Regions from separate parts of the Homo sapiens genome. Here region 2 is linked to region 1. The links come from fine-mapping of genetic effects on gene expression. Tissue or cell type: monocytes after R848. Region 1 holds a variant in brackets; the other region holds the start of a gene. All regions are shown on one strand. Distances are from middle to middle.

Region 1 (5,000 bases):
CATTGTTCCTAATGTTTTTGACCTTTGTTTCTATTGATCAAGGCTGTGCTTGAACATTTTACCTAGAATCATTGATCCTAGTCTTACTAATCCCCCAACCCCTAAGAATCTTCCAGGTGGAACATTTCTATGCATCAGTTCCTGGGATCCCTGACATGGGAGCACTGTATAACTAAAATAGTGGATCAGAAGGTATCTTAGAGGAACTCCATGACAAAGCAAGAGAATGAGACAGTTGGGGCATCCTTTACATGTCTGATCCCTGCCACAGAGGCATGGTTTTCACCCCATTCTGATTGTGAAGGGTCTGGGGTAGGCACTCTGTGTCAAACTGCAGAACACCACGGTGCTAAACTCAGGGGTACACTCTACTAGAGGGATCTAACATACTACACAGAAACCTCTCTTTCTAGGGAGCAGGCCCAACTGAGTTAATGGTTTGTGAAATGGAAATTGTATCAATTTATGCCACCATTCTATATTGTAACAGTGTACAGATGTGCATTATTGAAATGGAAGGTTTTCCCCTCTGAAATGACCACTATTTAATCTTTTAAGCACATCTAGTACCTGGGATGTGGAAAATGTCAGAAAAAACAAGCTGGTTGCTTCTTAACATCAAAAAGAAGATAGAATCATTGTAAACGTTTTTTAAATCATTCAGTCATCTATTAGTAATGTACCTTTTTCCTTGGTTCATTAGGTCAAATGCCTCACTGATTTTGTCAAAAGGCAGGGTATGGGTCACCAGTGCATCCAGATTGAATTTCTTATTCTTATAGTCAGTGACCAGCTTTGGGATAGAATCTACACTTTTCCAACCTGTAATGTGGACAAAATGCAAAATAAAGACATGGCACTTGACACGAAGTAGTTTAATCAGCATTTGCTGAATGAATGAAATTATTAGGTCAGATTTGGTTTGCTTCAAATAGATTAAACTCCTTCCATCTTTAATTTTCTGTACTTATATCTATTTTAAAATTTTTCTTTATAAGAAAAATTTAAGATTATTTTCCACTCTATATAAGAAATTATCTCAATAAGGTCAATGTTTATTTTTTGTTCCTCCATGTTGGTTCATTCAAATGCAAATTAAATTTCAATTTGCAAATTATAATTACCTTTTTATATAAATTATTTATAAGTCATTAATAGTTTTTATGTAGTATTTGGATATGCTCTAGGGATTCAATGGTTGAATAAATTATTTTTATTTCTTTTCAATAACCTTCACTCTAAGAATTTCAGAACTACTAGGAAAAGAATTTAAAGCTATGAAGAAAAAAAAAACTGACCACCAAAGAATGTTCCATTTATAGTACGGCCGATTATTAGCTCCTCTGGAAAAATAGTCAATCCTTTGCTACCAGCAGCTACTCCAATGAAAGTACATGATCCCCAGCCTGCGGTTGTACAGTCCAGGGCTGCTTTCTGTGATGGAGCATAAAAGAATACTTGAGTCAGTGGAAAAGTAGAATATGAACTCCAGTGTGGCAATGTACAATGCTTTAGAAAAAAATTAATCCAACTCTGCATGTAAGATAATGGGATTCAAGCTAATGACATCATAGTATCATTGTAGATTGAGCCTTGAGGGCCCAGTGTTCCATTACAAATAGAATGTTCAGCACAGTCCGGGTGCAGGTGACTCATTCCTGTAATCCTAGAACTTTGGGTGGCCAAGGTGGGTGGATCACTTGAGGCCAGGAGTTCGAGACCAGCCTGGCCAACATGGCAAAACCCCGTCTCTACTAAAAATACAAAAATTAGCTGGGTGTGGTTGTGCCTGCCTGTAGTCCCAGCTACTCGGGAAGCTGAGACTGGAGAACTGCCTGAACCCGGGAGGAGGAGGAGGTTGCAGTGAGCCGAGACCACACCACTGCACTGCAGCCTGGGTCACAGAGTGAGACTCTGTCTCAAAAAAAAAAAAAATTATTAGTAAAATAAAAATAAAGATGTCTAAAAAATCAGCATACATTTGTGTGTAAGTAAATAAGTTTTATATTTGCCTCTGCTAAATGTTTAAAGTGTCAGGGTTTGGGACAAAGGTTGTGAGACTGTAAACCCAGCCAAATCTATCGTTGTGTGACTTTTTTTTTTTTGACAAATAAGACTAATTTAAAATTGTTAGGTCAATAACAGCAACTGAATCACCTAATTTATCAGCAAAATACCTATGTGTTTAACCTTATGGTTCTTACTTAGGTTTTCACCTAATGTTTAGACTTTAGTTAACAAGGGCCAGGCATGGTGGCTCACGCCTGTAATCCCAGCACTTTGGGAGGCCAAGGCAGGTGGATCACTTGAGATCAGGAGTTCAAGACCAGCCTGGCCAACATGGAGAAACCCCGTCTCTACTAAAAATACAAAAAAGTAGCCAGACATGGCAGCATGTGCCTGTAGTCCCAGCTACTCAGGAGTCTGAGGAAGGAAAATTGCTTGAGCCCAGGAGGTGGAGGTTGCGGTGAGCCAAAATCGTGCCACTGCACTCCACCGGGCGACAGAGTGAGACTCCATCTCAAAAAAAAAGTTAACAAGGAAATAACTTTAAATAATGGCTAGTTCTGCATAATATCTCAGTTATCAAAAGTTATCTAGATAACTATTAAAAATGAAAAAGTATATGTAAATGAAATAAATGCTTATAAGTGGACTTTTTGTGTAATATAAAATCTGAAAATTATTTTAAATTAAATAATAAATGCTGGATATGTGAGTCATTTCCAATTAAAAAATTATGATATAGGAAAACATGTTTCTAAAATTGTGAAATGATTTCATCTATAAAATGCTTACATCTAACAGTTCAGGATTTCTTGCTTTCTAAGTTTTCATGAAAATTTAAGGTTACTAGGAATAAGAATTCTAATTCATATATAAATATATAATTGTATTAT[C/CT]TTTTTTTTGAGGCAGTCTCACTCTGTTGCCCAGGCTACAGTGGAGTGGCGTGATCATAGCTCACTGCAGCCTCAACTTCCTGGGCTTAAGTTATTTTCTCACCTTACCCTCCCAAGTAGCTGGTACTATAGGCGTGTGCCACTACACCTGACTAATTTTCATATTTTTAGTAGAGGTGGGTTTTTGCCATGTTGCCCAGGCTGCTCTCGAACTCCTGGGCTCAAGCAGTCTGCCCACCTCAGCCTTCCAAAGTGCTGGAATTACAGGCATGACCCACTGTGCCTGGCCTGTATTCTTATTAAAGAATAATTTTACATAATTTGGAAATTATTTTAAAGTTATTTACTTAAAAAGATAAAAAAAAGTAAGTAGGGGAGAGAAATGTAAAGTTATAAATATAAAAATGTATTTTTAATAAAAGGGTTATTAAAAAAGAATAATTTCATATAAAAAAGAATCTTATGGTAAAATCTTGTCCTAAAATAAAATGACTTATTATTTAAAAGGAAAAAATTAGGATAAGTCAGAAGTCCAAGCATGTCATAGATCATCTGTGTAAGTCATAATAAGTTTCATGAAGAGGAATTTATAAAAAAATTTTGTATGTGATTAAATTTGCTGTGATTAAAAAAGGATTATTTAGAATAGTCTTTCTAAGATTATTCCCCTATGTTAAAACAAAGTCTCTTTACAGTATTGATTTGCTCTTAATACAATTAAAAGAAACTTAACTTTTAGTTTTATAACCTGTTTCTTTTGAAAACTTCTCAAAATCATATGTCAGTTCACCTTTTGCTATGTCTCCCTGCTTTCAGCTTTGTCTCCCCTTGGACAGAGATAACTCTTTTCTTTAGCTTTTTCATCAGCTATTATAAGTTTTTTTCCTCCAGTTCTAACTATTCTTATGGCCTGATACTAAAATGTTTTATCTTAAAGGTCTAGGAGTGAATGTTTTCCTCCAGTACAACTTGATTCTGTACTCTTGGCTTTTCTTGATATGTTTAAATTTTTCAATGTAACCAGAAAATTTCTCATGCAGTTACTAAGAATTATGTATTCCCCTGCTGTACTCATAATCCTGAACACACTTTTCCCATGTCTGATTAAATTCAAGCACTTTTCCCATCAGGTTTATTGAAATGGGCTTCCCATAAGGAGAAGCAGTCACACTACCAGTTTTTCTTTCCATTTCTGGTAACTGACTTAAGAAACAACATTTTACATTTTATCAAAATAATTCCCATGTTGTCTACATTAGGTTTTTAATTGCTTAAAAAAATAGTGTTAAGGTTTTTACATCCATACATCCTCATGTATTGCCTTTAAAGTCTTTTGATGATTTATTTGGCTAAATAAGTAACTATTGTTTTACAATGACCTGTGGTTCTGTTTTAATCAAATGTTTTGAGGCCTTTAACATTTTTGACAAACACTTTCAAAATTAAATTCTAAATTAAGTCTCTGACTTATTGCTGGGGGTTATCAAAGCTCTAAAAAATTAATCACTGCAAGGTTATAAAATCTTTCTACAGCTTCCAGTCAGGTCATAGACTCCAGTATCACTACATTCAGCTCCTTAAAAGGGTCCTTAGCAGGTGTTAGTAAACAATCCTTGTGCTGGTAAGCTACAGGGTGTTGACCCTTGGTTTAGAGGGTTAGAGGTCATTGGAACCTAGAAACTTTCTATAGAAGCTTTTCCTAGCTATAGAAACTTTTGGTGGGAGAGTAGGTAACTCATCTTTTGGTGATTAAATAAATCTTTCTCTTTCCATTTGGATTCTCTAATATAATTCTGTTCCATAATTGAAAATGACTTTCATGGTATAATAAGTCAGCTTAATAATAGAAGATGCTAACTTTTAGGTCAGTGGTTCTCAACTTGAGAAATTAATTTTTAAAATGTTGTCAGTGGGCTCCCAGCACACAAGAATATCCTGGGTTTGGCCCATTCATTGGTATTAAAAAAGCAACAAAACAACGAAAAACCCCTCAGGAAATTCTAACATATAGCTAGTGTTGAGAATATGTTAATATTAAATATAACAACACATGCACATATTGTTTATTAATTTTAAATATTATATACTGTTAAAGAAAAG
Region 2 (5,656 bases), 39 kb before region 1:
TCTACTAAAAATACAAAAAATTAGCCAGGGGAGGTGGCAGTCGCCTGTAGTCACAGCTACCGGGGAGGCTGAGGCAGGAGAACGGCGTGAACCCAGGAGGCGGAGCTTGTAGTGAGCCGAGATCGCGCCACTGCACTCCAGCCTGGGTGACAGAGCAAGACTGCGTCTCAAAAAAAAAAAAAAAAAAAAAAAAAGAATATGAAGTCCCTAACACAATCCTTGGCACAGCATAGCTTTGCAAAATAAGTTAGTAGTTATTGGTAGCAACAGAACAAACGGTTGAGGGAAAGGAGAGGTGAACTACATAGAGATATAAAAAATGGCCTCTGTAGGCCGGGTGCAGGGGCTCACGCCTGTAATCCCAGCACTTTGGGAGGCCGAGATGGGCGGATCACCTGAGGTCAGGAGTTGGAGACCAGCCTGGCCACTATGGCGAAACCCCGTCTCTACTAAAAATACAAAAATACCGAGCATGGTGACGGGCGCCGGTAATCCCAGCTACTCGGGAGGCTGAGACAGGAGAATCGCTTGAACCCGGGAGGCAAAGGTTGCAGTGACCCAAGATCGCGCTATCGCACTCCAGCCTGGGAAACAAAGAGCGAAACTCCGTCTGAACTGGCGGGGGAGGGGGGGGGGAGGGAAATGGCCTCTGTAAATTGGTGAGGTTGGAAATGTGGAAATGATCGTTTTTAAAATTAAATTGCAGATATTAAATCTCATAGTACAAAGAATCAGACACTGCATTAGAACCTTTTTCATTTCAATGTGCCATAAATTTCAACTCCACAAGTCAGATTCAGAATACTAACAATTAAGTTATGCAACATAGGAATCCAAAGAAACAAGAATACTAAATTTGATGGCCTGCTCCCCTTTAAAAAATGTCTTAATGGAGCCTAACCTTTTCCTTTTACTGACAATTCTAAGCAAAACAAAGCCCCACTCTAAATCCGCGGGAAATGGCCCTACTTCAACATTTGAACTATAGTAACAATTATAATCTTTCACCTTCTCTGAATAAAGACACTCAGTAATAAGGAAAAGCAACTACCAGTTTAAGTCTGAAAGACTGTTTAGAGTTTATTTCTTTCAAACTCCAATATGTTTAAGGCCATTTGTCTTACTAGAAAATGTCCAAAATTGCAAAACATTAAAATAATCAGCAACTTTAGACTGAGTATGTTATTCGTAATTTCTGCCTTTCTTTACTGTCTAATTTGTATTTTATGAATTTGTCATAGAGGAGCAGACCTGGGTCGGAATCCCAGCTCGCCATCGTTGGTGTGACCAAGCACAACCAACCTCAAACCTCAGTTTTTGGTAAGATGGGGATAACACCTCGCAGAGGTGTTTGTTACGTGAGGACTAGAGGGAATATAAATCTCTTGGTATTTAAGTGCTCGAAAATGTTTCTGAAAGGGACGTAGGGGTCTTTCCAAAATACACTCCTTGGAGGCACAATAATTAAGGCGTAGGCTCAATTATGCAACACAAGCAACCTAGGAGTTAGAAGCACGGGATCTGGCTGCAGCTCTGCCAAGTATGCAAGCTGCAAGAATGACCCAGAGCGAGTTACTTAATTTCGTGTAAGAAGCAATGCGTGGCCGCTCCTAAGCCATTTCCACTGGGATACCGACCTGACCAGCCCCTGCCCCCCACTCTCCGGCTCTCCCACCCCCCCACCCCGTTCCGACTGTCCCAGAAGCAGCAAAGAAAGCTGCTTCCCAACTGAAGAGCCGAGACAAAGCTTCCTTCTCTTTCTGCCCCTCTGAGCCGCTCGCTGGGGGCCCAGTTTCAGAACCAAGAGCCAGATCCCGTCTTGGGCGCCGAGCCTCGCGCGCCCCCGAGGATAGCAGCCTAGTCCCATGCCATGCACTCCCTCCCTTGGACTCAGGGCCCTCCGCTCAACGGGCCCTACCTCGTTCGCCATGTTCACGGATTCTGGTCGGCGCGGGGGGCTGACATCCGGGGTGGGCCGCGCAGCGACGGAGGCATGGGCGTGGCGAGCGCCTAGCGAGGGGGGCGGGGCGTGGGGGGGGCTTGCAATGGCTCCAACCGGAAGGGCGGTGCTCGAGCTGTGGTGCGTGCCGCTAAGTTGTGCGTTCCAGGGTGCACTCGCCGGCGAGGCTGCACGGCGCCGGTTTCATTGCTAAAATCCGACGGACTTGTTGCAGAACTCGTTTTTTTTGTCGGGAAAGGGCTTCCCCGTGTAACTTTACAGCAGTTATCGTAGATAAGACTTGCAAATTACAGATGTGGACGGTGAGGGAACGGGAATTTCACTGAAAGCGCCTGAGAACCAGTAAGAGACCTGCAACAGCTTTGTGCTCCACTGGCGAATGCTTCCTCCCCTAATACACATTATGTGTGCTTGGAGACACAAGGAGTAAGATACAGCCCCTCAAGGGACTCGTCATAGGGAGAGGACACAGCTTTGGGAATAAAGGGGCCACAAAGGAGGAGAGAGGAGTTTGCTGAAACTTCCCAAGCTCCCATTCCAGCAGTTCCTGAAGGGTAGGTAGGATTTTGGGGAGACAGTAGAACGTGGGCAGAGAACTTTGGAAGGAGGAGATGAGGAGAACAAAAAGTCTCCTGATCCTGGACAGTTTTTTGTGTTAAGAGTGGGCCAGAGTGTAGAGAGAGAGAATGTAGTATTTGTCGGTTTACTCTTTCTTTGTTTGTTTGAGACGGAGTCTCGCACTGTCGCCCAGGCTGGAGTGCAGTGGCGCGATCTCGGGTCACTGCAACCTCCGCCTCCTAGGTTCAAGTGATTCTCGTGCCTCAGCCTCCTGAGTAGTTGGGATCACAGGCACACGCCACCACGCTGGCTCAATTTTGTATTTTTAGTAGAGATTGGGAGTGGGGGCAGGGGGTTGGTCTCACCATGTATGCCAGTCTGGTCTTGAACTCCTAACCTCAAGTGATTCACCCACCTCAGCCTCCCAAAGTGCTGGGATTACGGGCATGAGCCACCGCACCTGGCCTGCCAGTTTACTCTTAAACTCTGTTGTAAACGCTGAATTTTGTTAAAATAGCTCTGTCAGACACACTGCTCTTTTCTGTCTTTCAGTCTTTTTCTTGGCTCTTTTCCGGGTACATATGGTAAGATTGTCCAAAGTCTTTCCGTCCTTTCACTCCACTCTCTCACTCACACTTTGGCTTTTAACGTCTATTTATGGAAAGATGACTACCAGATTATTATCTCCAATCAGGATGGCTCCCCTAAACTCCAGACTTGGACATGTAACTGCCTACTGGATTTCTGTCTCCATTAGGATATCTCACAATCGAATGCAACTCCTAAAACTCCTATTAATATTTTCTCCTTATAGGGACTCTTTCCTCTGTGTGTTGACACTCTCCACATACTTACCCTAGCCAGAAACATGAGAGTCACAACTTCTCCCTCTCCCTCGGTCCCTGCATTCAGTTTGTCACCAAGCCCTAAATATCTCTCTGGTCTTGTGCCTCTCTCTCCCCACTGCTGCTGTATTAGTTCAGGCTTTCATAATTTCTTACAGGATTACTGAAAGAGCCTCCCATCTGATTTCTTTGATGCCAGGCCCTTGAATCTAATACTTAAAAAGGAATGCCCTGTTAGTGATCTTTCCAAAACGTAACATCAATCAATGCCATTTCCTATTTTCCTTCAATAATTTTTGAATGAGTTAGGCTATAAATAAATAAATAAATAAATAAATAAATACCATTCTTCTATTTAAAAATATTCAAGGGAGAACAAATGGATAAAATCCAAACTCTTTAGGCCACTCAGGCTCTGAATTACTTCCTTCTGTATATACCTCTATCCTTATTTCCTGCTCTCCTGCCAAATTTCACACCAACATTTAAGGAACATTCGTAGTTCCTTAAAGGGACTATGCTTTTTCTTGATTCCAGGCCTTTGTGTATGTCAATACTTCTGCTTGGAATGCAGCAAGCAATTTCTAGTGGGAAAAAAAAAAGACTTGGCAGAGAGTTTTCTTTTCCCTATTGCAGATATATTGTCTATTTTCTGGAAAGAGACACTTGCATTTTTGTAGTGCCTTGTTTAACAATAATAGGCAAGACTTTAGGTTTCTGGTCTGACATGTAAGGAATTTAGAAGTCATCACTCCATCCTAACAACAACTAAAAAGCTAAAAAAAATGAGAAATTAATAACTCTTCTTAGAGCTGTAAGTGAAGTGGGGTCACAGAGAAAACAGCTTCTCCAAAATTAGAGACACAGATGGGTGGATTCAAAGAATCACAACTTACCATAGAAACACACTTTTGCAGGAACTGTTACTGGAGTAGGAAAGTCTGAGCTGTAATTGATGAATTGCCAGAGGCTCATTGTGGATTAGTTTGAGAGTTAAAGATTCTTGGGGGACCCAATCTTAGGGGGGCTTTCACACTTTTGTGAGTTTTACCTCCGTGAATTCTCAGAGAAGATCAGAGAAAAATCCCCAATTGCTTCCTGCATGAGGAGTGTAAAAGGAATTATTTTGAAAAATTCTAGTGCATTTTGTTCTTAACAAGACTTGCCAACAAAAGAAACTATTTTACTCGAGCCTAGTGTACTGGGATTTTTACAAGTGGTTAACTGACCTGGGGGAAAGGAAATACCCAACTCCAGCTCCCTCTAGACATTCTGTACCACCTAAGGGGGTGAAAAAACAAACTGAGAACTGTGAAGTTTACAGCCTAGGGACACAGGCTCACTAAAAGACTGAGATAAAATGGTAGAACTATAGGACACTTCCCCTTCCCGTGTATCTTACCACTACATTACTAAAGGGCTATTTACTGCAATTTCTTTGACTCAGTATATTATATCCGCCTTTCAATACAAAATTACAAGGCATATTAAAAGGCAACATAGTTTGAATGGACAGAGCAAGCAGTGGAACCAAACCCAGAGGATGACAGGGATGTTGCTATTATCAGACCATGAATTTAAAACAACTATGATTAATATTGTTTGAAATGCTTGTTCCCCGGTGCTGTAAAGAAATAGTACTTGAACATAAATTTAATTTAGTAAGGCCATTTTTACTTTTGCAGAAAGGGTACACTGGCCAGCAGTTTTGCCATGAGAGTACACCAAACAAAGGAGACAGGGTCATTTATAACCTAATGTATCCACCCTACTGCTGTGTCCGGTTTCCATTGTCTGGAACGGGACCTCACATTCTGTATTTGTCCTGACTTGCTAGCAACTTAGAACTTTTTAAAAGAGGCAGAGGTAGAGGAGAACAAAGGAAGGAGGAGGTAACTTGTGGAATGCTGAGAAAGGTAAAAACACTTTTAAATAAGGAAGAGGAACAGGCTATGACCTAGTGCTTGCTTGGACTAGTATAAGCATGCCAGGGCAAATATTTAGGAGCACAGGTCTTTGAATAAATTTTGCTTATAAGAGAAGTTACCATTTATTCCTAATTAGATGGGCAGGAAAGTCTTTGAAGAAGAACCTCTACTTTATTTTTTACAGTATGCTAAGGGCTTTAATGGGAAAAGTAGACAACATGCAAGAACCGATGGATAATGTAAGCAGAGAGATGGAAATTCTAAGAAAGAATTGAGAATAAATGACAGAAAAAATACTGTAACAAATGAAAAATGCCTTTGATGGGCTCATTAGTAGACTGGATGTGACTAAGGAAAGAATCTTT

The links. PIP is the estimated chance that this variant, and not a neighbour inherited with it, causes the effect.
Region 2: ADH5 starts here. The variant in region 1 is fine-mapped to the expression of ADH5 in monocytes after R848 (Quach 2016, PIP 0.95).

What each region holds. Positions count from the first base shown.
Region 1 is chr4:99,125,911-99,130,910 of GRCh38, forward strand. ADH4 (alcohol dehydrogenase 4 (class II), pi polypeptide) reads right to left here. Exons shown (of 9, transcript NM_000670.5): 7 at 1,299-1,434; 8 at 684-822. All of the region lies in intron 1 of LOC100507053 (a long non-coding RNA gene), which reads left to right. Among named protein-coding and RNA genes, the nearest start is that of ADH4, 16 kb to the right of the region's middle. The variant C/CT (reference allele first, on the strand shown) is at 2,901.
Region 2 is chr4:99,086,771-99,092,426 of GRCh38, forward strand. It overlaps ADH5 (alcohol dehydrogenase 5 (class III), chi polypeptide), which reads right to left and starts at 2,018. Exons shown (of 9, transcript NM_000671.4): 1 at 1,919-2,018. The coding sequence starts at 1,930. LOC100507053 (a long non-coding RNA gene) reads left to right here and starts at 2,087. Exons shown (of 10, transcript NR_037884.1): 1 at 2,087-2,514. RefSeq lists a promoter at 1,963-3,216 and a silencer at 2,001-2,050.